Regions from separate parts of the Homo sapiens genome. Here all the other regions are linked to region 1. The links come from fine-mapping of genetic effects on gene expression. A gene starts in region 1. Each other region holds a variant in brackets. All regions are shown on one strand. Distances are between the middles of the regions.

What was found.
Region 2: its variant is fine-mapped to the expression of DCPS in whole blood (TOPMed, PIP above 0.99). The same link has a PIP of 0.9 or more in blood mononuclear cells and monocytes.
Region 3: its variant is fine-mapped to the expression of DCPS in whole blood (INTERVAL, PIP above 0.99).
Region 4: its variant is fine-mapped to the expression of DCPS in whole blood (TOPMed, PIP above 0.99).
Region 5: its variant is fine-mapped to the expression of DCPS in breast (GTEx, PIP 0.94).

Annotation. Positions count from the first base shown.
Region 1 is chr11:126,301,403-126,306,487 of GRCh38, forward strand. DCPS (decapping enzyme, scavenger) reads left to right here and starts at 2,658. Exons shown (of 6, transcript NM_014026.6): 1 at 2,658-2,879. The coding sequence starts at 2,679. TIRAP-AS1 (TIRAP antisense RNA 1) reads right to left here and starts at 2,920. Exons shown (of 2, transcript NR_187388.1): 1 at 2,786-2,920. RefSeq lists a silencer at 2,616-2,745 and an enhancer at 4,404-4,693.
Region 2 is chr11:126,328,072-126,333,173 of GRCh38, forward strand. DCPS (decapping enzyme, scavenger) reads left to right here. Exons shown (of 6, transcript NM_014026.6): 3 at 3,334-3,479. Among named protein-coding and RNA genes, the nearest start is that of GSEC, 25 kb to the right of the region's middle. RefSeq lists enhancers at 1-314, 315-1,037, 5,077-5,102. The variant G/A (reference allele first, on the strand shown) is at 2,124.
Region 3 is chr11:126,231,057-126,236,158 of GRCh38, forward strand. It overlaps FAM118B (family with sequence similarity 118 member B), which reads left to right. Exons shown (of 9, transcript NM_024556.4): 3 at 3,939-4,031. The coding sequence starts at 3,946. It also overlaps a transcript of SRPRA not described here. Among named protein-coding and RNA genes, the nearest start is that of FAM118B, 22 kb to the left of the region's middle. RefSeq lists a silencer at 724-924. The variant T/A (reference allele first, on the strand shown) is at 2,714.
Region 4 is chr11:126,084,392-126,089,493 of GRCh38, forward strand. No RefSeq gene overlaps it. Among named protein-coding and RNA genes, the nearest start is that of CDON, 24 kb to the left of the region's middle. The variant C/T (reference allele first, on the strand shown) is at 2,318.
Region 5 is chr11:126,352,649-126,357,750 of GRCh38, forward strand. ST3GAL4 (ST3 beta-galactoside alpha-2,3-sialyltransferase 4) reads left to right here and starts at 3,038. Exons shown (of 11, transcript NM_001254757.2): 1 at 3,038-3,194. It overlaps GSEC (G-quadruplex forming sequence containing lncRNA), which reads right to left and starts at 2,939. Exons shown (of 2, transcript NR_033839.1): 1 at 2,794-2,939. RefSeq lists enhancers at 1,930-2,673, 2,674-3,415, 3,416-4,159, 3,847-3,996 and a silencer at 2,877-3,256. The variant C/G (reference allele first, on the strand shown) is at 1,905.

The DNA.
Region 1 (5,085 bases):
TCAAAGAAAGAAAAAAAAGGGCGGGGGGGGGGGGCTCCTATCCCCAGGCTCTTTCACACTGTCCAGTTTTGTCCTATTAACAGTACTTGGCCGGGCACGGTGGCTCACGCCTGTAATCCCAGCACTTTGGGAGGCTGAGGCGGGCAGATCACGAGGTCAGGAAATTGAGACCATCCTGGCTAACACGGTGAAACCCCGTCTCTACTAAAAATACAAAAAATTAGCCAGGCGTGGTGGTAGGCCCCTGTAGTCCCAGCTACTTGGGAGGCTGAGGCAGGAGAATGGCGTGAACCTGGGAGGTGGAGCTTGCAGTGAGCCGAGATCGCACCACTGCACTCCAGCCTGGGCGACAGAGGGAGACTCCGTCTCAAAAAAAAACAAAAAACAAAAAACAAAAAACAGTTCTTAATCATTATCTTGTTTACCTCATGTACCCCATTTGAATATACATTTTATGAAAGAAGAGGCCTCGTTGTCTTGCTTAGAACTAATAGCCGCTGGCACATGGAAAATGGAGACCTGGAAAGGTTAAGAGACTTTTCCAAAGTTGCACAGCTAGTCAGTGTTGGGGCCCGACTTCATGGCTCTCAATTATGGGCTCTTTTTGTTAAAACATAGCTACTTTGGCAGGGTGCGGTGGCTCACGCCTGTAATGCCAGCTCTTTGGGAGGCCCAGGCGGGCGGATCACGAGGTCAGGAGTTCGAGACCAGCCTGGCCAACATGGTGAAACCCTGACTCTACTAAAAATACAAAAAATTAGCCGGGAGTGGTAGCAGCCGCCTGTAATACCAGCTACTCAGGAAGTTGAGGCAGGAGAATCGCTTGAACCTGGAGGCAGAGGTTGCAGTGAGCCGAGATCGCGCCATTGCACTCCAGCCTGGGGGACAGATCCTAAGTCTCTCCTAATAATGCTTTCTGCATCACACACACACACACACACACACACAAAGTAGTCCTTTTTTTTTTTTTTTTTTTTTGAGATGGAGTCTCGCTCTGTCACCCAGGCTGGAGTGCAGTGGCGCGATCTCAGCTAACTGCAAGCTCCGCCTCCCGGGTTCACGCCATTCTCCTGCCTCAGCCTCCCAAGTAGCTGGGACTACAGGCGCCCGCCACCACGCCTGGCTAATTTTTTTGTATCTTTAGTAGAGACGGAGTTTCACCACGTTAGCCAGGATGGTCTCGATCTCCTGACCTCGTGATCCGCCCACCTCGGCCTCCCAAAGTGCTGGGATTACAGGCATGAGCCACCGCGCCTGGCCTAAAGTAGTCTTTTATCCAACTCCTAATCTATATTTCTGGTAGAAGTAATCCAAAAATCAAACTAACACATGGTACACTTTGTTATTGACCAAAAACTGACTGTAAATTGCATCTTGTTGCTAACGTTGAGAATGGCAAAAACTGTCCCACACCCATGAGATCTGTCTGAAAACCTAAACTCAAATCACTGGCAAAATAAATGTGTGGCTGACTGAAGCGATGTAAGTACCAACTCTTTTTTTTTTTCTTTGAGACGTAGTCTCGCTCTGTCGCCAGGGTGGAGTGCAGTGGTGCGATCTCGGCTCACTACAATACTCCGCCCGCGTTCAAGCGATTTTCCTGCCTCAGCCTCCCGAGTAGCTGGGACTACAGGCGCGGGCCACCACGCCCGGGTAATTTTTGTATTTTTAGTAGAGACGGGGTTTCACCATGTTGGCCAGGATGGTCTCGGTATCTTAACCTCGTGATCCGTCCACCTCGACCTCTCGAAGTGCTGGAATTACAGGCGTGAGCCACCGCGCCTGTCCGTAAGTACCAACTCTTCACAAAATTTAGATCTGTTAAATAACACCAGTGAAAAACGGGCTAACCAGAAACAATGGTCACCAAAGAAACCCTCAACAGCAGAAGTTACAAGTAATAATTTTATATGGCAAAAAAAAAAAAAAAAAAAAAAAAAAAGAGAAACGAAACCCTGGGAGACGAATCATACTGCAAATCATATCCCTGGGTAGCAGGGCAGAAATACAGGTAAACAAAATAGAGAGGAGGGGGATGCCTCTAGCCCGGAAATAAGTGGGTGGTGGAGATGGTTCTTCTGGCCATATTCGTTTACCTTTTTTGTCAGCAGAAAAGTACTGAGTCTACAAAGTAAAAAACTGACCACGATGAAAATTTCTGCAAAGTAATTAAAATGGGAGAAAAATGGAAATGGCTTAAATACTCGGTATAAAAAATCGACCAAGGAATCAAATGGGCTCACGGATTTGCGTCAGAAACGTTGCTTCCCCGATAATTGGTCAACGTCGGTGTAACTATGATTAAAATGTCAGTATTCAAACAAGGGCTCCAACACTACCGTGGCCCAAGGGCGTCTTCGGCTCCCACCCCGGGGCGTGGGCCTGGGGGTCCCTCTTCACTGCGCAGCCACCTCTAGCCCGCCGCTTTCGGGACTCTCAGCCTTCTTTTCCCTTCCCTGAGGGCCGGCCGGCACCACAACGGGGCCAAAGGCAGTAACTCGGTTGAAAGGCGCGCCCTGGGACAGGTCAGCGGGCTCCGCCATGCGCGGCACGCATCCCGCAGGAGCGGGTGCCAGAGCAGGGTAGGCCGGGAGTTAGCAGCCCAGCCAGGCCGCTGGACTCGGGCTAGGGGCGGGGCCAGCGCAGGGGGCGCAGGCGCACACCGCCTCCGCGGCAGCATGGCGGACGCAGCTCCTCAACTAGGCAAGAGGAAGCGCGAATTGGACGTGGAGGAGGCCCACGCCGCCAGCACAGAGGAAAAGGAGGCAGGAGTTGGAAATGGTACCTGTGCTCCTGTCCGCTTACCGTTCTCCGGCTTCAGACTGCAGAAGGTGCTGAGGGAGTCTGCGCGGGACAAAATCATTTTCCTACACGGGAAGGTACCAGGAGGCAACCCTGAGGTGGGATGCGGGAAGCAGTGAACCAATCATCGCCTCGGAGGCAGATTTTTTTTTTTCGGATCTCGGCTGGAAAATACCAATCATTATCACTCCGGGGAGGCGGGAGTGCGCCACTAGAATGCATAGAGGGGCGGTGAAAGGCGGCAAGATTGCCTTTGAAATTAAGGCAATGAACACATCTAGCTCTAATTTTTCTAATGTCTCCACTAGAAATATCTACTGGGAGAGTGCATTGCAGATTAAAGATCACATGTTACATTCCCCAAGCCATTCATCATCCATTTATGTATACAGGGACTAGGAACCCAGTCAATGTTAGATGTCTCGCTCATCCCTGTCCGTGGAAACGACATGAGACTGTAGGAGATGTGATCTCTGCCTTACGCGACTTCAGCCGTAACAGGAGAACAATATATTATAATTGTTAATTCAGTTCTACGCACGCACTTTCATGCATGCCAGACACTAAACTAGGTACTGGGGATGTGGAGACGAAAGTTACCATCCCTGATCTTCAGGACTACGGAATATTTCTGGCGAGACAGATACACACAGCTTGCTCCAATACCAACGTGCTCAGCAATCTGGCAGGGGCTGAGGAGAGATGGAGACCATTCCAGGAACTAGTGAGGAGGCCTAGCCAGAGCAGATATGGGGGTTCCCCAGAAACTAGTGAGGAGGCCTAGCCAGGGCAGATAAGGGGGTTCCCTAGAACTACTAGCAGGAACTCTCACCTTTGGGAGGATCAGGGAACCTTGGCCTAGGCTTCCATGCCTCTGTGTGTATCTGGTTTTTAAATTTTTATTTATTTATTTATTTATTTTTGAGACGGAGTCTCTCCTCTCTGTCACCCAGGCTAGAGTGCAGTGATGTGATCTCGGCTCACTGCAACCTCTGCCTCCCGAGTTCAAGCTATTCTACCTGCCTCAGCCTGCCCAATAGCTGGGATTACAGGCCCCCGCCACCATGCCCAGCTAATTTTTGTATTTTTAGTAGAGATGGGGGTTTCACCATGTTGGCCAGGCTGGTCTCGAACTCCTGACCTCAGGTGATCCGCCTGCCTCTGCCTCCCAAAGTGCTGGGATTACAGGCGTGAGCCACCGCACCCGCCTTTTTTTTTTTTTTTTTTTTTTTTGAGATGGAGTTTCACTCTTCTTGTCCAGGCTGGAGTGCAATGGCACTATCTTGGCTCACTGCAACCTCCACTTTCTGGATTCAAGTGATTCTCCTGCCTCAGCCTCCCAAGTAGCTGGGATTACAGGCATCTGCCACCATGCCCAGCTAATTTTCGTATTTTTAGTAGAGACAGGGTTTCACCATGTTGGCCAGGCTGGTCTTGAACTCCTGACCTCAGGTGATCCACCCACCTCTGCCTCCCAAAGTGCTGGGATTATAGGCATGAGCGACTGCGCTGGGCCTTGTTTTTTGTTGTTTTTTGTTTGTTTGTTTGTTTGTTTTTGTTTCTTGTTTTCTGTTTTTTTGTATGCGATTCTGTCTGGTTCTCTCAGCCCAGCTGTCTTCAGTGTGCAGCACCTGTTGAAGGTGTTAGTCATGAGAGCCTTCGAGCTAGGAGTCACTTGGGAGACCTAGGTTCTGGTTTCTGTTTCAATGCTGACTGTTCATGTGACCTTGGGCAAGTCACTCAAGGTCTGTTTTTCATCTTCTGAAATGGGGAGAACTTGACAGAGGTCTTGTAAGCCTAAAATGGAAGACAACTGAGAAGCCTTGTATTCTGGGGAAGAAAGGTGTGAGAACTGCCACAAGGATTTGGGTGGAGATGCCTTCTCTGGCTGGGCATGGTGGCTCACACCTGTAATCCCAGCACTTTGGGAGGCTGAGGCAGGCATATCATTTGAGATCGGGAGTTCAAGACCAGCCTGGCCAACATGGTGAAACCCCATCTCTACTAAAAATACAAAAATTAGCCAGATGTGGTGGCATGCGCCTGTAATCCCAGCTACTCAGGAGGCTGTGGCGGGAGAATTGTTTGAGCCCAGGAGGTGGAGGTTGCAGTGAGCCAAGATCGCGCCATTGCACTCCAATCCGGGCAACAGAGCAACACTCCATCTCAAAAAAAAAAAGATGCCTTCTCTGAGAAAAGAAATGTGAAATGTGAGTGCCATTGGCTAGACTTCCCCAGAGGGAAGACTTCAGGGAAGGAAATCCCAAGTATTGGGAATTCAAA
Region 2 (5,102 bases), 27 kb after region 1:
TCGGCCGTGGGAGCGGCCAGGGCACGGCCTGGAGAGGAGCCCATGGCTGACGCGAGTTAGTGGGTCAGTGGGGAGCCGGCGCGGCTGGAGCAGAGGCCCTAAGCGGGAGAGAGGCAGTGCATGAAGGTGGAAAGAGGGCCAGGGCGAGGTGACCAACAGCCTCGTAGTCCACGGCAGGAAGCGCGGGAGCTGTGGAGCAGGGGACAGTTTGAGGGTGGCAGCTCCCACCTCAGTGTGGCCCTGACTGAGGCTTTCGGTGGAGACCTGAGGGAAGCCAGGCCCCTTAGGAGTGAGTGCTCTAGGGGGACGTGGGGAGCTCTGAGAGTCCTGCAGTCAGGTTCCCATCCCTGCAGGTGCACCTCAGGAAAGGCAGGAGGATGGCAGGAAGTGAGCAGTTGGAAAATAAGCACCTGTGGATGCTCTTGCTGCTGAGGGGAGGCGGGAGGGGCTGGCTGGGTGAGACGCCAGTTTCCCTGCACCCTGGGTGGCTGGGGCAGGTCTCCCACAGGCCTCGGCAGACCAGGGCATGCTCACAGGCCGGGTGGCTTTCTGATCTGGAGCAGCCAGGAGCCCCAGGCTGGGAGCCCGGCTGGGTGACCCTGCCCGCAGAACCCGGCTGCTCTCCAGCGCCCGCTCTGCCTCTGTGCCCTGCCCATCTCTCCCCCACTCTCAGGGAGCTCCACTGCCCAACCCAGGCAACGGAGGCAACAGCGGAGAGAATCCAAGCTAGCCTGGGGGGAGCGCTTTTCTCCATGTGAGGCACTTCCTGAATCTTTCCTTCTACTGACTCGTTTAATTCTCCCAACAGCCCTGGAAGGTAGGTGCTGTTATTGTTACCCCAGATTGTAGAAGTCAGGAGACTGAAGCCACAGACAGTGTCAGTCACTAGCCTGAGGTTACGCCACTAATAAGTGCAGAGCCAGGACTTGCACCCAGGCTGACTGGCTCCAAAATCTCTGTTCTCATCCACCAAGCTCCACTGCAGATGTATGGATTTCCCTCAGGTCCACTGCAAGGGCCAAGGTGGTGCCGTTCAGTCTACTTCAAGCAGTCTCCCGCCTCTTGAGATCTTGGTGTGCCTGACCTCTGACCTCTGGCCCATGACCTATGACGCTGAGCTGTTAGAGAACAGAGTGAGAAGCAAGAAAGAGTCTTTTGCTGCTCCTCAGAGAGTTGTGAGGAGGCCTTCATGCCCCTTTTTCAGGGTCAGATCCGGGGATTCCCAGGATTGGGTGACATTTATTTAGCAACTCGTGATCCAGCTGACACGTTTTATTGAATGTAAACAACTCTGTGAGGCAGATTTGATGACCACCCTTTAATAGGTGAGGAAGCCAAGGCTCTAAGACGTTAAGCCCCATGCCCAAGGGTACACAGCCAGTATGGAGAGTCATGTGGCCAGCCTGGGGCCAGTGGCCATGTCTTCCCACTGTGCTGCTGTGCCACCCAGAGCTGAGGGCCTGGGATGTTTGATGGGACAGAAGCCACGTGCCTGGTATGTCATCTCTGTGCATCCCCACTGGGACTTGGAAGTAGAAATTGGAAGTAGCCTGTGGTGTTGCAGGAGCACTGGCTTTAGGGTGAGATGGCCTCAGTTCCAGGTTCGCCTCTGCCACGTTTCACGGTGTGATACTGGATGACTCTTTTGAGTCCCAGCCCACCCTCTTCACTGACGTATGAAAGCGGGGTTAAAACCACCTATGACCTCAGACCAAATATGAAAGTATAGGTTGATAGTTCTTAGCCGGGTTTTGCGGTGTGTGAGTGAGTATGAGGACTTCGTGGTGGTGAAATGTGCCCGCTGGGTTTTCAGCTCTCTCGGGTTTCCCTGGGAGAGCCTATCCGAACCCAGATTAAGAAAGTCAGAGGGAACCATGGGTCTTTTGAGAAAGATCCAAGCTGATTTGGAAATACCCCTAAGATCTATGTTAAAACACAATGTATACATGTTAGAGTAATGATGACAATTGTACCAGATGTTTTTAAAAATAAAGGAAAGGACTTAACCAAAACCAGGTGGTTTTGGACCAGGAAGCTAGCCTAGAGTCTGTTTAGGAAAACTGCAAGACATCCTTCTAGTTTAAAACTGTGCTTCTCACCTGGGGACACTTTTTCCTTTCAGG[G/A]GACACATTGGCAATGTCTGGAGACATTTTGGGTTGTCACAACTTGGGGAGGGTGCTACTAACATCCCAACAGAGGCCACAGGGATGCAGCTGAACATCCTTCAATGCACAGGACAGCCCCTGCAACAGAATTATCCAGGCCAAAATGTCAGTGGTGCTGAGATTGAGAAACCCTGGATTAAACATCACAGCACTTATGTGGTGTTTACTGTGTGCCAGACATTGTTTTAAGAACTTCACAGGTAATTGACTTGTTTAATCCTCCCAGCCTTATGACACAGGAGCTTTTACTATCCTCATTTGGCAGATGAAGAAGTAGGGGCACCAAGAGGTTAAACAGCTGAACCGTGCTCCCGGGTGGGGCCAAGGTCCCATTCAGAATAAGGAGCAGGCAGAGCCAGGACTTGAACTCAGTCTGGCTGCAGAGTCTGTGCCTGGAACCACTGCGCTCTGCTGCACTGCCCATCATTAAGGGGACTACTGGGCTTTAAACCATATATATATATATATATATATATATATATATTTTTTTTTTTTTTTTTTTTTTTTTTTTTTTTTTGAGATAGAGTTTCACTCTTGTTGCCCAGGCAGGAGTGCAATGGTGCAATCTGGGCTCACTGCAACCTCTGCCTCCCAGGTTCAAGTGGTTCTCCCGCCTCAGCCTCCTGAGTAGCTGGGATTACAGGCATGCGCCACCACGCCCGGTTAATTTTGTATCTTTAGTAGAGATGGGGTTTCTCCACGTTGGTCAGGCTGGTCTCGAACTCCTGACCTCAGGTGATCCGCCTGCCTCGGCCTCCCAAAGTGCTGGGATTACAGGCGTCAGCCACTGCGCCCGGCCTTTAAGCCATATTTTCAGCTTTGGGTCCAGAAAGCCACATACCTAGAAATTTGGTATGTGAGAAGAGTTAGAGACCTCTCATTCCTGTGCCTGGAAGATGGAGCAGGAAGGGCTGGGGTTTGCCTGATGAGGGGCCCAGTGACCCACAGGTAAGAACCTTGTGTTTTCCAGATTCTGAGTGTGGCTCAGCTCGTGAATGCAGTGGCACAAGGCACTCTGTGGGAGTGGATCTTGGGTGCATGATCCTCTTGGATTTTGGCTTCCCTCAGGGAATCAAAGCCAGGGTGGGAGTTCTCTCCTCACCGTGGTGCCTGTGGCATAGAGAGTGGGCATTGCTTCCCTGTCACGGGCTGTGCTGTATCATTGCAGATGTAAAGACGACCGTGGTTTACCCTGCCACAGAGAAACACCTGCAGAAGTACCTGCGCCAGGACCTCCGCCTGATCCGAGAGACGGGAGATGACTACAGGAATATTACTTTACCCCACCTGGAGTCCCAGAGCCTCAGCATCCAGGTGACTGGCTGCATGTCTCAGACGCAGAGCACTGCTCCCGTGGCTGGTGCCTCCTCTTACGAGTGTCTATTGGGGTCATATTAGGGGCCAGGCGCTGTGCTGGGCGAGGGGATGGGGGTACAGTAGAGAGCATGGCGGACAGAATCCCCACCTCGTGCAGCTTACATCCCATGCACAGTCACACGGTGTGTGACCATACACAGATATCTCAGGATCTATGTGCTCTGTGAGATAATGAGGGCTGCAGAGAGAAATAGACAGGATAAGTGGGACCAGAAGGCCTGGGGCGGGCAATTGCCATTTTATATCGCATGGCGAGAGAAGGCTTTGGGGGTGGGGGAACTGATGCTGGTCTTGGTCCCACCTGATGTGCTTGGGCATGCCATGGAGGCTCTCTGGGGACCTCAAAGCAATCCAGTCCTTTGGAAGAATGTGTGTCTGCTCTGCAGTAGCCTTGATCCAGCCTCGGGATGACTGTGCCATTGCTTTGGGTCCATGAATGGGTAAAAGGCTGATGTTGAGTGAGTCCCACCCTGTCCAGACTCTTATTCCTGGTTTCACCTGCGGCAAACCGGCCTGCAGGATCTCAGTCTCAGAGGAAAAACTCTTCCCTCACCGACTCCCCCTTGCATTCGTCCAAAAGAAGGCAGGACCCCATTGGCCCCGGGGATTTGGTGCAGGGACTCCATTCACAAGCTGGCAGTCGTCTGGCCAGGCCAGATGCAAGGCCATTTAGCTCCAAGATCCTGACTCCTCCCTGGGCCTAGGCCCAGCGCCAACTGGAGCCTCTGCCTGGAACTGGCCCCATGTGAGTACTCAGAGTTAAATATGACTGATGCTTATTGATGAGTCAGTTTCTTGCCCACTCACTGACTCTGACACTGTGCCTTGTCTTTATCACTCACCCTTGTTCTCTTCGAGCATTTCTCACTTTTCTCCCCAAGATTCAGGTCACTGTGGTGGAGGGTGTTGTGATGTGAGGAACTCACAGCCACTCCTCCCTGGCCCAGAAGAAGGGAGGGTACGCTGTGTGTGTGGGCACTGCAAGGTGAATTGTACTTGACAGGAGTAAGGAAAGGGAGGCTGACAGGGCCTGCAGGAATGAAGTTTCCTTGGGAGACCTGTGTGCCGCCAGCCCCCTTCCCCAGCCTGGTTCAGCCCTGGTCTCCCTGGGCAGCAGTTTGCGTGGGGTGCATCTGGCTCAAGCTGACTTGTTTGTTGTTGTTGTTGTTGTTTGTTTGTTTGTTTTTAAAGTCCCAGCACTTGTTCTGTTTTCCAAGTGAAAAGGAACTATATCTCCACCTTCTTAGAGTTTCTGCTGTTCAGGGTCCTAGGGAATCTCCTGGAACAGTTGTTCTGTTGTGCTGGTTGTGCAGACCTGAGATTCAAGTAAGGAAGCCCTGATGTGGTTGGTGTGAGTAGCTGGGATTACAGGTGCTTGCCACCATGCCTGGCTACTTTTTTGTATTTTTAGTAGAGATGGGGTTTTGCCATGTTGCTCAGGCTGGCCTCGAACTCCTGAGCTCAGGCAGTCCGCCTGTCTTGGCCTCCCAAAGTGCTAGGATTACAGGTGTGAGCCACTGTGCCTGGCCATGTATATTCCTTATTATATACCATTATGCA
Region 3 (5,102 bases), 70 kb before region 1:
CAAAGTACAAGTGTTCTGTCTCATATGAAGACTTCAGCCTTAACATTTCTGTTAATGAGGTTGCTGTTACTTTGCTCATCTTTTACCAAGTATCTGACTTTTATTTTGCTGTACTCTATTGGCCTTGAAGGATTTCTCAGTGGCTTAGCAGTAATTGAGGTAATGAAGACACTGCCACAGGTAATTGACTTTGTTTTCTTGTGGCAGAAAAACATTTTCCATTTTTGCTATACATAGCAAGTCCCACAAAAATGAAAACTCAAACGTGATCACATAAAAAAAATTAAAGTGTGAACTAGCTTTGAAGCTCTTTAGCAATAACTGCATTTTGTTTAGGGTACATGCTAAAATTGATTTTTTTTTCCTGAAAACAGTACTCTAGAAGGAATAAAATATGGTTTGTGCTTATATGCCACTGGGGTATACATGTGAGATTGTATCATGTGAGGCATCCTTTAGGGTAAAGAAAATATGTTTCTCTGTTAGAAAACAGGATGAGTATATGATTGGATATAATGTAGGCATGCTGAGCTACGTCTCATTCAGTACCTAAATAAGAAGACCCTAAACATTCTCAGTCAGAAGCGATTGGCTATATTTAATTTTTTAAAGTAATAGTAGTTGGAATGGACCTTCAGAAAAGTTGACTGTGTAAAGAAATAAGTCAGAAAGCTTAGTATTCAGGTCTAGACATCATGAATTAACCATCTGGCAGAAATAGAATCCAGCAAAAACGATCTTACGTAATTTCCAGGACAAAATGGTAGGACAGATCTAGGCTCTGGTGGATAAGTGGTAGTGAGAAGTATATAACAAATAGTGCTTGTCACTGGAGAAAGTAGTTTTCCCAGCTTCTGAATGTAGTTGACTGCCAAGATTGCATCAATGGAGTACCTAGTTAACAAGCAGCTGTTAAGGATTACTTGGCATTACTTCAAGTAAATCTCCTTTCTAGAATGCAGGCACTTCCTTTGTTGATAGTTTTGGACTTTAAGTTTTTTTTTGTTTGTTTTGGCTGAAAAGTTAATACAGGTTTATTATTCCTCATCTAAAATGCTTGTGAGCAGAAAGAAGTGTTTTGGATTTCTAGGGGATTTTTTTGTTTTGTTTTGTTTTTAATATTTGCATTATACTTAACGGTTGAGCATCCCTAGTCCAAAAAATCTGAAATCTGAAATGTTCCATTGAGCATTTCCTGTTTAGCAATAGTGTAGTTAAGAACTTGGACTTGAGAGGCACAGTTGCCATGGTTTGAATACTGGTACTACCAAGTACCCGATCTTTCTGTGCCTCAGTTTTCTCATCTGTAAAATAAGGTAAGAACAATGCCTCGTAAGGTTATGCGGATTAATGAGTTAATGTTTATAAATAGTCCATGGCATGTAGTTAAGAGCTTGTAAACTGGCTTAGTAGCTGAATTGAGCATTGAATTCTGAAGATGTCCATCTTCAAAACTTAATAAGCATGAACTTCCCTCTACATTTTACTTTCATCTCTCTCAATATAGTGTTTTTACTTGCATGTCATCTGTTTAGATGATGGGTTTATAGAACCATATTTAAGAAAAGAACTTAAGCACCTAAGTTTTTTCCTTAAAAACAACTTAAAAAATATATTTTTTTAAGTTTTTTAAAGTTTTTTTAAAACTTAAAAAATATTTTTTTTTAAAAAAATATATTTTTTCCTTAAAAAAACTTAAAAAAATATATATCCCCAAACTAATGGATTGTCCTGTGTGTGGAAGAAGTAAACACATTCTACCCCTAGTTCACCATTCTAGAGCGTTGACTTTTAGAATCGGAAGTGAGTCACATAAGTTAAAACTTCATAAAAATATTTTAAGGACACTTAAAACCTGGCTATTGTTATAAGCAAACTGGGAAGTCGTTAGACTGTAATAAGTTATTACACTTAAGGGAAGATGGCTTAATGGTATACTTCATGTGCATCCTATATTTAACAAAATTGTTGCATTGTAGAAAAATTAAGTTTGCATCTTATTTAGGTGTTTCCTATTTGAAGGAAGATTCTGGAGAATCTGATTCTGTAATTTTGGAGTAGAGCCTAGAAACAAACTTTTTTAATTTAATGAATTAACTTTATTTTCAAGAATATATATACTTTTAACAAACATCCCAGCTGGGTGCGGTGGCTCACACCTGTAATCCCAACACTTTGGGAGGCTGAGGCGGGCGGATCACCTGAGGTCAGGAGTTCGAGACCAGCCTGATCAACATGAAGAAATTCTGTCTCTACTAAAAATACAAAATTAGCTGGGCATAGTGGCGCATGCCTGTAATCCCAGCTACTCAGGAGGCTGAGGCAGGAGGATTGCTTGAAGGGAGCAACTGCCAGGAGGCGGAGGTTGCAGTGAGCCGAGATTGCGCCAGTGCACTCCAGGCTGGGCAACAAGAGCAAAACTCTGTCTCAAAAACAAAACAAAACAAAAAACCCAGAAAAACCTACATGGTTGTGTTAAGGCAGGATTTACTGAGATAAGTGACTCATCTGTCTTCTCCTGAGCCCCAGCTTTCTCACCAACAGAATCAAAGATTTGACTGGAAACATGATCTACTTCCTAACTCACTACTGTGACTGTATTATTTCTATTTACCTTATGATTATGATATAAAGAAGAATTACACTGCGTGTGATGGACTATGGGGTGAGGATGTGAGCCTTCTGTTTACCACAAAAAATTAATTCAGAAACT[T/A]AGTGTTTTAATAAAGAAAAAGGCTTTTTTGGGCTGGGTGCAGTGGCTCATGCCTGTAATCCCAACATTTTGGGAGGCCAAGGCTGGAAGATTACTTGAGCTCAGGAGTTAGAGACCAGCTGGGCAACATGGCAAAACCCCCTCTCTACAAACAGTACAAAATTCCACCAGATGTGGTAGCATGTGCCTGTAGTCCCAGGTGATGGAGAGGCTGAGGTGGGTTGATCGCTTGAGCCCAGGAGGCCGAGACTGCAGTGAGCCAAGATGGCGCCACTGTACTCTAGCCTGGACAACAGAGCAAGACCCAGTCTCAAAAAAAGAAAAGAAAAGGGCTTTCTAATAAAACAGTAAACTTGCAGTAATTATTAGTAATTCAGTTCTATATGTTGCCAGTGGAATGTACTAAAACACCCCAAACGGTGGTAGTATGTATTGTCTTCTATATTGTGTGTGTGTTTAAAATACTATTACTATTTTTAAATTCACAGTCTTTAGATTTAACAAGTTTGCCAAAGTTTGAGCACTTAGAACTTTATAGTATTCATTCTAATCCATGGTAATTATTTACTTTTGCCAGTTATTCCAGCACCCGAACATAATTGGCCATTTTTCATACATCTTTGCTTGATGATACATTTACCAGTCATCACAGTGGCTTGATTTGAAGTCCACTTCATGTTTAGTTAGAGAGACATGCCCCACTGGCTACAAGGTCACCATCGTCCAACAACAGAGAATGTCATTCAGCAAATTAGTATTGATTGTTCTGTTCTTGACTCAGTAATTTCTTCAGCTGAGAGTAAATGGGTAATTGGGGGCTATTAATACACTTATCTATGGGTGGTTTTTATCCCCTGAGTCTTCCGCAAACCCATCTTGTGGGAGAATAACTGGTTTTTCTTAAGTTCTACAAAGTGATGGCCAGTAATTGACATGAGTTGACACTGTTTTTGGTGGGAACTTGGGGGCAGGCCTTCAGAAACAGAAGCAAGATGGTAGTATGGAGCACCAAAGTCCTATAATTTCCAGATTACTTCTTTTAGACTAATTTAATTTAGCTCCTTGTTTAGAATGTTCATTAATTAACAAATTTCTGTTAAGTAGGGGGCACCTCCAAAACACCTTTAAGGGTATACAGCTTTTTTAAACTGTTTAATATATGTGCTATTTTGAATAGTATACTTTACAGATCTAATTGTGGTTCATGGTGTTTAATCTATTTTAGAAACTGGATGGCTTCTACAGGGAGCCAGGCCTCTGATATAGACGAGATTTTTGGATTCTTCAACGATGGCGAACCTCCCACCAAAAAGCCCAGGTAAACAAGAGAAGGGAATCAGCAGAGTAAATTACCATTAGTGGGAGAGAAAGAAAAATAGCCAACTTATACCTTCTATATCAGTTGTTTTCACTAATTAGTATTGACCTTCATACTCAAAATTAAATTGTTTTTATTTTGGGTTTAATTTTTATTTTTTATCAAGGCAGTACAGGTACATAGTTTTTAAAATCAGTATTTCAAAGTCCGCCCTTCCTCAGAGATAATCACTTTCAACTTTACCTGTTTCTTCTAATGTTGACATCCATGTTTGAAAATACTATATATATTGCTGCTTTTTAGTTTTTTGGTTTTATTGATTTCTGAGTATGGAATATAAGGACTGCTTTGCTCTCATGACTCCTCCCTCTGTATTGCCACTCCACACACTCTCCCCATGTTCTTGTATGTTTGTGTCACAGTGTTTGGTTCAATCCACTTTTTTTTTTGAGACAGAGTCTTGCTGTGTCGCCCAAGCTGGAGTTCAGTGGCACGATCTTGGCTCACTGCAACCTCCACCTCCCGGGTTCAAGAAATTCTCCTGCCTCAGCCTCCTGAGTAGCTGAGATCACAGGTGCCTGCCACCATGCCCAGCTAATTTTTTTGTATTTTTAGTAGAGATGGGGTTTGACCATGTTGGTCAGGCTGGTCTCGAACCCCTGACCTCGTGATCCACCCGCCTCGGCCTCCCAAAGTGCTGGGATTATAGGCGTGAGCCACTGTGCCCGGCCTGGTTCAATCCACTTTTAATATTTACATTATTACGACTGTATAAGTAGTATTCATAGCTGAGCCTAATGCGTAACGATTATGTTTCCTTTCTTGCCCATTTTTTTTGCTTATGTCATTAAAGACTGTCTTTTTTGTTTGTTTGTTTGCTTTCAATGTATTCTCACATGCTCTGACAGAAGAATAAATCTCCTAGCTATACTGAAACACACCGATAACTTGCTGGTTTGTGTCATGGATTCTTCCTTCTGGATGCTAGTCCACTCTGGACACTTGTTCTCCAGTCCTGTTGCGTTCCTGATATTTGCTATTTCCCATTCCCATCATCCTGATAATTTCCTT
Region 4 (5,102 bases), 220 kb before region 1:
GCCAGTTGCCAAGTTGAAGGCAGCCCAAGGCTGCCAGCTTTCACCTCTTTAGTTCTGGCCTTGGCAGTAATGAGGTGAAGGGCCGGGACTTTTAACTGGCTAGGTCAAAAAGGTTTCCTTATTAGACAAACAGTGCGGGCTGGGGGTGGGGGGTGCATTGGTGTCTAAGCTTAGAACCGATAGCTTCCAGAAAAAGAGGCAGAGCCAGAGGTCTGTCTCCTCACACACCTGCCTCTCCTGCCGAGCCAGCCCCTGGATCTTCACCTCTGTCCCAGCCTGCTCCTGCCCATCCGCACCAGGCTTGAGGAGGGGACTTGAGGAGGTGTCAAGAGGGCCAGAAGAGGGCCCAGCGAGCTATGGAGTGACACAGAGTGGGCTGGGGAGGAAACTGCCCTGAGGCTGCTTCTTTTTTTTTTGAGACAGAGTCTCATTCTGTTGCCCGGCTGGAGTGCAGTGGCATGATCTTGGCTCACAGCAACCTCTGCCTCCTGGGTTCAAGTGATTCTCCTGCCTTAGCCTCCTGAGTAGCTGGGACTACAGGCACACGCCACCACGCCCAGCTAATTTTTGTGTTTTTAGTAGAGACAGGGTTTCCCCATGTTAGCCAGGATGGTCTCGAACTCCTGACCTTGTGATCCGCCCACCTCGGCCTTCCAAAGTGCTGGGATTACAGGCGTGAGTCACCGTGCCCAGCCGAGGCTGCTTCTTGACCTATAGGTCAGCGCCTGTGATAAGGCAAACTTGGGGAGAACAGCCCTGTCCGGTGGGTAGACAGCCTGCAGCAGTGAGCGCCCCCTTTCCTGGGTGGCGGCAGAACAGCTCCGTGCGCAGCTGCTGTCCCCAGCACTGCCCTGGCATCAAAGGCCCACACCCTGCTTGTGTCTCTAAAGCTGTTTGTCAACCAGTGCTCTACAAAGACCTCAAGTTTAGAAGCTGGTGCCTGGGGGACCAAAAGACAGGGTGTAGGGGGTGTAGCGGAAGAGGATTCCCAAGCTGAGTGAAAGGATTTCCTATCCCCTCACTCACACATCTCAACCAGAACAGCTTCTTTTTATTGACTTGCCATATCTTCCATGTAAGATTTCATCCAAGGAGACAATTACAGAAACCAGAGAGTTGAAAAAGCACTGTCCTACAAGGTGAGAAGGTGCTCTGGAGGGGAGACTCATACTTCTCTAGTTTCATAACAATATCTTTGCACAGTTAGCATCCAAATATAATTCATTAAAGAAGTGCTTCTTAAACACCTTATTCACATGGCCACTAGTTCCACAGAGTATTGGCGGCTTGCAAAGAGATGCATGCACTAAAGCAGGAGTAAGTCCAAATAAGAATGAATAACTAGGATCACAGAAAATATACACGAAATGAAATCAAGACTAGGGAAGAGAAACACACATACACGGGGGATAAAGTCCTGCATATTTGCTGTTATTGGACTCCAGATTGGCTTCTGAGCTTCCCTGAAGGCAAATCTGGAGAGGAAAAGAGAGAGGAAAAAAAGGAGACAGACAGACAGATGTCTGGAATCTAATTCTCTTTACCAGAATGAAGGAAATATACCAGCGTGTCAGGCTAAGCAAAATTTTTTCCAGCTGTAAGTTTTAGAAGAAATTTCTCACAATGAAATTCGTATAGGCAGTGCTGAGTAACAGGATTGGCAATGTCTTTAGTTGACACCCTACAGTAATAAGACTCCGTTGATGAGGGTACAAGATAAAATGGCCCAAAAGAATGGTCTTGTATCACTTTAGTTTGATCTAAGCATAACCCATCCATTTTAGTTTGGGTTCCCCTAGAAGCAGACCTGGAGAAAGGGATTCAAATACAAGTCATTTGTTTGATCCCAGTAAACACTAGTAGGAGAGTGGGCAAGTGAGACAGGAAAGGAAAAAAGGCCCCCAAAAAGGTGTGTTACCAAGCTAGTTCCTACTAAGGGAATTAAAGCTCATCCCCACTGAGGAATTCTGGGAGTGTTGAACAGCCTCTGAATCATCCTACCTGAGGCGGGGAGGGAGCTGGGGCATATATACCAACTCCCATCAATCAATGGTTGAGGGCTGCTCTAGGAGCATGAATTCCCCGGTGTGTCTGGTTTACCACATATGTGGGCAAAGCAGGCTGCAGCAGGCAAAGAAAGGCCTCAGGCAAGTGATATAGAAGCTGGCAGTCGGAATGTCAGCCAGCATGCCCCGAAATGGTACAGGCCAAGGAGGTGCCGACAGGATGCTGACAGCATCACATCAGCTTGGGGACCCATGGTGACACCCTAGCAGGAGCAGCCCCAGGACACAGAGGTTGCAGCGAGCCAAGATCG[C/T]GCCACCACACTCCAGCCTGGGCGACAGAGTGAGCCTCCATCTAAAAAAAAAAAAAGAAAAAGAATGACATTCTGGTTTAGAGTTTTTATAATACTTTTATAATTTAAAAATTTGGAAAATGTTTATAACGACATTTCTGCCAGGAAATACTTCCTGTGGACTTTGATTTTCATGGCAGTATCAAAATGCGTGTTTTATATGTACATCAGCAACTAGGGATCTATACTCTTCATATGTGGTCCACTTCCTGGCCCCTTTGTCAAGGCCAACGAGAGGTGAGGAAAAAACCTCAATCTGGCCGGGTGCAGTGGCTCATGCCTGTAATCCCAGCACTTTGGGAGGCCGAGGCGGGCAGATCACTTGAGGTTAGGAGTTCGAGATCAGCCTAGCCAACATGAAGAAACCCCGTCTCTACTAAAAATAGAAAAATTAGCCGGGCGTGGTGGTGCATGCCTGTAATCCCAGCTACTCGAGAGGCTGAGGCAGGAGAATCACTTGAACCTGGGAGGCAGAGGTTGCGGTGAGCCGAGATTGCACCAATGCACTCCAGCCTGGGCAACAAGAGCAAAACTCTGTCTCAAAAAAAAGAAAAACAAACAAAAAACAAAACAAAAAAACCCCCTCAATCTTCTATTGGTTTAGACAGATTCGTTCACAACCACAGATAGTAAATCAATGATCAATAATGGAGTGGCTGAGCTTGAAAACTCCAATTGCTCCCCATGTAAAAATATCGACCTGGGGAAAAAAATGGGTTAAAAGAGAGCGTGCGCAATTTTATTAAATACAAATTACTTCACTTTATTCCTGTAACAGAAAGAATATTCCATATCATTAAATGCTGCCCCTAAAAGGTGAGTAAGAAGAAAGCAAAAAGAAGTTGGAGGGTCTTCCTCCAGTTAGAGTAGAGTTTCTGAGCGTTGGACTGTTATCGAGGCGCTGAACCTTGCACTGGCTGTTGTCCGGTTTCTCTCCAAAACCTGGTTGAGACCACCGGTATTTGAAAAAGTTGGGGTAAGGGGCATTCTGGTCACTGATACTATGAACCTAACCCAAGTATGAAGCCTAAGGTATTCTGCTTTAATGGGAAGGGTATGAGCCTTATAACCTCCACCTTCTGGCTGTGTGGCCTTAGCAAAATCATTTAACCTTTCTGTTCTGTCATTTGTTAAAAGAAGATAGTAACAACTTCCTTACAGGCTGTTAGGAGAGTTAGAGATAATGCATGCAAAATGCTGGCCCTGTTTCTGATATGTAGTAAAGGCACAGTAAAAGAAACTATGATTATCTAGTAAGACCCATCTCTACAAAAAATAAAAATAAAAAAATAGCTGGTCATGGTGGTGCATGCCTGTAGTCAGCCACAGCTACTCGAGAGGCTGAGGTGGGAGGATCGCTTGAGCCCAGGAGTTCAAGGCTGCAGAGAGCTATGGTCACACCACTGCACTCCAGCCTAGGAGACAAAGTGAGATCCTGTCAAAAAAAAAAGGAAGATGAAGAAACTGATTTTCATCACCAAATGAGGAGTTCTTTAAATGGAGATGGGATACATCTTCTGTTTGACATGACATAGGAGTATAATCAGGGGACCTTGGGTTCAGATATCTAATCATGCTCAAAAAGACTTAAAGTTATAAATCAATCTAGCAATTCAAGAGTACATTTACAATTAACTTTCCTCAAAGAGCCATCAGAGCATTGCTCCAAGCTAGATATTCTAAGAGAACATTTTTGAGATCTTTCTATGGCTGTGTATGGTCGTTGGCTGGCAACATTCCCCTCTGAACATCAAGGCCCAAGTAATTTGGATCATTCTTTATGGCCAAGCTTTTCAAATAAAGTTTCTATATCCTGAGGGAAACATCCAATATGCCACAGGGTGTGTGAAGCCACAGGATAAAAATGGCTCTTAAGAAAGAGGATCCTTTTGGTTAAAGACCTTTAGGGAAAACTTTAAGTAATTTAACAAGTAATTTATCAGAAGTATATTATAGATTATAAAAATATTTTAAGATGAAATGTGAGAATTTGAAGGAATTTCATGCTCATGGCCAGCGACATCCGGCGTGAGTCTCAGGCTCTTGGGGCTGAGCAGAAGGTTCTCATTATTGGAGGGCAATTGATCCCGGAAAATGGCCACTTACAGTGAATCCACTAAAAACGGGAACCAAATATTTCATAGTAAATAATAGCGAGAAAAGTGTCTATTAGAATTTTATATTGCAAATTAAACCCCCAAAAATATGTAAAGCAAGCTGCTTACGGCAAAGAACCCCACCCTTCCTCAAATGACTTAGATTAAGACTTTACCTATGACAAGGCCAGTCACAGACCCTCCAGAGTCCCTTGCTCTGCCTCATCAATGATTAGCTAAGCTGCTTGTCTCCACGGATCAATTGGGACAAAATGCTTGTAACCAAACTTCATTGAAGAGTTTCTTTTTCAAGGCCCCTGGACTTTGGGCACCCTCAGCCTGAGCCAGCAAACAGCCCTTCCTGACAAGAGGCAGGCCTCTGGGTCAAACAGCCCCTGCCTCACTGCCTGACCCTGCTGCCCCATCACCCACCCCCTTCCCCACACCTGCTTCTTTCTAGCCTTGTTTACTCTTCCCTAGAAAGGAAAAAAATTCCTGTCTGCCTTATTCCTAAGAAGCTTTCAGAAGGATGGTCAGGGCCTTCTCCCTATTGCAATAGTCCCTTCCCCTCCCCCAGCCTTGCAATAATTCTCTTTGGATAAAAGTCTACTCTTACCAAGTCTGGATTTGTTTTTTATTCGACAAGAGTA
Region 5 (5,102 bases), 51 kb after region 1:
AAAGCCCTGCTTATCCCATCCTACTGCCTCTTGCTGAGCCGCTCATCATGTGTTGTAGTTGCACCAAAGGGGGGCCTGGGGCCAAAAAAGCACATGGAGAGGAGAGAGGAGAGAAGAGGAGAAGGAAAGATGGAAAGACAAGAAAAGAGAGAGAGAGAGGAAGGAAGGAAAGAAGGAAGGAAGAAAAAAAAAGAAAGAAAAAGAAAGAAGAGGAGAAGGAAAGATGGAAAGACAAGAAAAGAGAGAGAAAGGAAGGAAGGAAAGAAGGAAGAAAGGAAAGAAAAGAGAAGAGGAGAAGGAAAGATGGAAAGACAAGAAAAGAGAGAGAGAAAGGAACGAAGGAAAGAAGGAAGGAAGAAAGGAAAGAAAGAAAAAGAGAAGAGAAGGAAAGATGGAAAGACAAGAAGAGAGAGAGAGAAAGCAAGGAAGGAAAGAAGGAAGAAAAAGAAAGAAAAAGAGAAGAGGAGAAGGAAAGATGGAAAGACAAGAAAAGAGAGAGAAAGGAAGGAAGGAAAGAAGGAAGGAAGAAAGGAAAGAAAAAGAAAGAAGAGGAGAAAGAAAGATGGAAAGACAAGAAAAAGAGAGAGAAAGGAAGGAAGGAAAGAAGGAAGGAAGAAAGGAAAGAAAGAAAAAGAAAGAAGAGGAGAAGGAAAGATGGAAAGACAAGAAGAGAGAGAAAGGAAGGAAGGAAAGAAGGAAGGAAGAAAAGAAAGAAAGAAAAAGAGAGAAGAGAAGAGGAGAAAGGCACCAGAATTGCTTCCCTCCTGCCCCAAAGATGACATGGCTTCTAGGCAGTGAGCTAAGCTTGTGGCCATGCTGTTAAGAAACTGGAGGGAAAAGATCATCATGAGTAAGCACATTGTGGCCTAACCTGAGGGGAGCAGAATTACGGTTAGCTTCTGGGCACCTAGTAACCAGGCTTGGGATAAGCTGGGGGAGAGGCCTGAATACAGCTTATAGGTTAGAAAAGGCACGCCACCTGCATAGTAACAGCACACACTTATATATAGCAGGTTATGCTTTCAGACCAAATTCGCATCCATTGCCTGATTTAATGCCAACAATAGCCCTTTGAATAAGCAGTTATTTCCTTTCCCCTCCCCCCACCCCAGTAAGAAAACTAAAGCTATTTAGTGGCAGAGACAAGAGTTGGAACTCAGGTCTCCAGGAACAAATGCTGGTTCTTAAGTTCCATTTTCTGGTAGAGTGACATTTACGTGATTCACGGCAAGAACTGCAAACTGTGCTTAGATCTAGTTCATCAAATGGCCAAGTTTAGAGGCTGGGCTGACGCTTGGATCAGTTCTGTCAGATTCACTTAGTTATGAAGGGCAGCTGCTTACTCCCTTTGGGCCAGTCTTCCCATCTGTAGAACAAGGAGGCTCTTCCCTCTTCCTCGACTTGCCCGAGGCAGGGACTTAGTCATTGTGTTCTTTATACCCAGCTTAATTCCAGGCCTGGAGATGGCATGCAATAAATAGTTGTTGAATGGCTCACGCCTGTAATCCCAACACTTTGGGAGGCCGAGGCGGGCGGATCATAAGGTCAAGAGATCGAGACCATCCTGGCCAGCATGGTGAAACCTCGTCTCTACTAAAAATACAAAAATTAGCTGGGCATGGTGGCACGCGCCTGTAGTCCCAGCTACTCGGGAGGCTGAGGCAGGAGAATCACTTGAACCCGGGAGGCAGAGGTTGCAGTGAGCCAAGATCACGCCAGTGCACTCCAGCCTGGCGACAGAGCGAGACTCTGTCTCAAAATAATAAATAAATAAATAAATAAATAAATAAATAAATAGTTGTTGAATGCATGTCTGACTGATTAAGCCAAAGGCACCATATTCAAACAAAATCAGACACTGGTGCAATGCCAAACAGCTTCTGCCCGTGCAAGGAATGATTTAG[C/G]ATGGAGCACAGTCACCTGCAGAGGAACAACTTGGAGGCAGACTCTCCTTACTCAGCTCACTTGGAGCAGAGCTTCCTGAGTTGGGGGTTCTTGACAGATAAGCCCTCCAGCTTCAGCAGAAGCAGGCTTGGAGCTGCCACTTCTCTGAACCCCCTTGCACTTACTGTCAGTCACTCACACCTTGCACTTATTCACATCCTATCCTGCCTCGTTCTTGAATGGAGTCCATGGTGAGCCTTCTCTGTGCCGCTGGATGGTAAGCTTCCTGGGGACAGGGAATGGGTCTGATAGTTTCCTTGGAGCCCCTGGCGCTCCCGGCACTGGGCTGTTGATACGTGGGGCTCCGGAAACACTGTGCTGACCTGTGAAAGGGACTGGCCTAAGGGGCTGTGGATTGTCCTGTAGGGTGACTTCTGAACTGTTCTTCAGCCTGGGCAGTTCCCAGGTTTATTTGGGGGGATGCCTGGGTCCAAAGAACCAGGGTCAGGGGCCCAGGGGTTTCTTCCTGGAGACAGGATGCCTGGCGCCTTCAATAACGGAAAGGAAACTGAGAAACTTTCTGAGGCCAAGATAAAGAGTATGCAAGTGAGGGGTGCAGAGAGAGCAGTTTAGGGGCAGCAGGCCCCAACCGAAGCAGAGGAAGGGCCCACGTCTGGGCCCAGGGGACTGACTGGCTGCCTTGCGTGCATGGGGCACGGGAAGCATAGGCTCCCGGAACAGGACCCTGCCCCAGTTTCCCCAGTGAGGGAAGGACACCGTTCCCCGTGGGATAGAGCACTGCACCCTTTCTTGATTCTCATTGTTCCCGGGAGCGAGCGCCTTGGCTGCGCTGGGCATACCCACCCTGGCGCCATTCACAGGCAGTGCCTGCCCTGGCCCTGTGCTCACCCCATCAGGCCTCCTCTTCCGCCTCTCTGGCACCCACGGCGCCCCTGCTTGCCTCTGTCCGGGTCTCGGAGGCGCGAACACCATCCCAAGCCTGCGACCGCGCGGCATCACCCCCGCCCTTCCCCCTCCTCCACCCCGCCCTTTCTACCCCTCCCGGGAGCTCCTGGGAGTCGGGCCGCCGTGTGCGCAAGCGTGTCCAGCCCCTTCCCCGCCCCCAACCCGGGCCCGGGTCCCCGCCTCCCCTGCAGGCGGACTCGCCCGCTCCCAGGCCGGACCCGCGCCCGGGACAGGGACCCGGCCGAGTCGAGCCGTCGCGCCAGCGCTGCGCCGCCGGTCGGTGCGCCTAGCGGATCGGAGCTGCGCGCGGAACCGTGCTGCCCCGCCCCGCTCCACCCGTGAGGGTGAGTACGCGGCGGCGGTGCGCGGGGGCCCGCGGGGCGGGGCGGGGCGGGGAGCCGCGGGGTCCTCGGCCGCCTGACCCCAGCCGGCGCCGCGCCTCCCGGAGGGGGTCGGGCCCTGCACGTGGGCGCAGCGCGGGTCGGGGTGGGGCTGCCACAGCCCTGCGGAGCTGCTTTCCGGGGTCCCTTTCCCTGGACCAGATTTTCGCGGGAAGCCGGATCCTCTCCGTTCCCTTGGAGTGAGCAAGCGGGACAGTTCTGCGGAAAGTTTCCGCCCCCAATCCCCCAGCCCTGCGCCCGGACTGAAGCGGCGGCCCCCACCTCCAGCATCCTCGAGCGATGGTTTCTCCCACAACTACCCCGGTCAGGTCCAGCACTTGGGAGCTGACTGTGCTGGAGGTGACAGGCTTTGCGGGGTCCGCCTGTGTGCAGGAGTCGCAAGGTCGCTGAGCAGGACCCAAAGGTGGAGTTGTCAGTGGGAGGCCGGCTGTGCCCAGGGTCCTAGGGCCACGTTATGGGGGTCGTCAGGCCTAGGCCACTGTGCCTCAGGGCTGCATGGGTGGTGAGCAGTGGGAGGGATGCGATGGGGGGAGTGGGCTCAGCTGTCTGCTGTGGGTGTTTCCTCGGGGACCTGGCTGGCAGGGACCTCCCGGCCAGCCCAGAACTGCCAACATGTCTGCCAGCACTGCCCCTCCATTCCCAGTCCTGGGGGGAGGCTCTGTCTGGGCAGCTTGAGGCCTGACCTACTGTGGCTGCTTCCTCTGCTCCCCAGCCTGGGTCCTGAGGGCCTGGCTTAAGGGAACTGCTGCCAGAAGGCTGGGAGTGTAGGCAGTGTTCGGGTGCCCAGCTGTGCCCTGTCTGACCTCATGGCCACCCACAAGCTGGCACCCCCCACAGGCCTCTTGGGGAAGCCTGTACTTTCCACCGCCGGAGGCGGGTACCGCGTGGAAGCCAGGCTCAGGCGGACTCATTCTTTTTGAACTTTGGGAACAGGCCTGGTACAGGCTGAGTTCTCACAAGAGACACACACCCGTGTCACTGTCTCCTGAGCTGTGCCGGACCCGTCCTACAGACTCCACCTCCTCTAGGTCCTGGCCCTGGCATCTGCCAGGGGGATTTTAAATGAGTTGATATATGCTAAGTGCTTTGAAAGGCGCCTGCACGGAGGGAGAGCTGTATAAATATTCACTATTGGTAATATTTCTCCCATGCTGTTACTCTCCAAAGCTGCCCGATAATTCTAGAGTGGGTTCCGGGGACGTGCCCGCTGTTTGGGGCCTAGAAATGAACTCGGGAGGTTGTTTTGCTTGCTGAGAGCTGGTCTGGGAATGCCCCTTGACCGTTCCCTGCCCTGCTCCTGGCCCACTCCCAGACTGCTCCTGTGCCTGGCCCCATTGCGCTGGGTGGGTGATCCTAAGCTGCCCCATGGGCCCTGGGCTCTGTCAAGACATGGGGAGCTTGCCAGGAGTTGGGGCCAGATCCCCCAGACTCCAAGATGGTAACCGAGGTTGTGAGGGTGCACATGGAAGGAAGAGTTAGAAGAGTGAATTGGAAATTGCCAGCTTGGACTTTGGGCAGAGTGGGTGTCTTTAGCTTGGGGATGGGTTGTTGTTCAGAGACAACAGGGCCGCCTTCTCTGTGAGCTGGCGGCCCAGGCTGAGGTGCCTCTGGGCTGCCTTCCCTACGGGAAGCAGTGACTGGCCCTCTGCTTCTCAGGAAGAGAGTGCCGTGCCCCCGCCAGCCTCCCAACCTCGTTAGACTCCTAGAATCCGGTTTTCTGGATAGAACTAAGAATCTGCTCCTTTCTGGACTTTTAATCCTGGAAAGGGCTCCCTTCCCCAGCAGGAGCAGAGAGACCAAACCCCCTTTCTGTGCTCCATCTTGAGCTGTCATTCTGTCCTAACTCCCCAC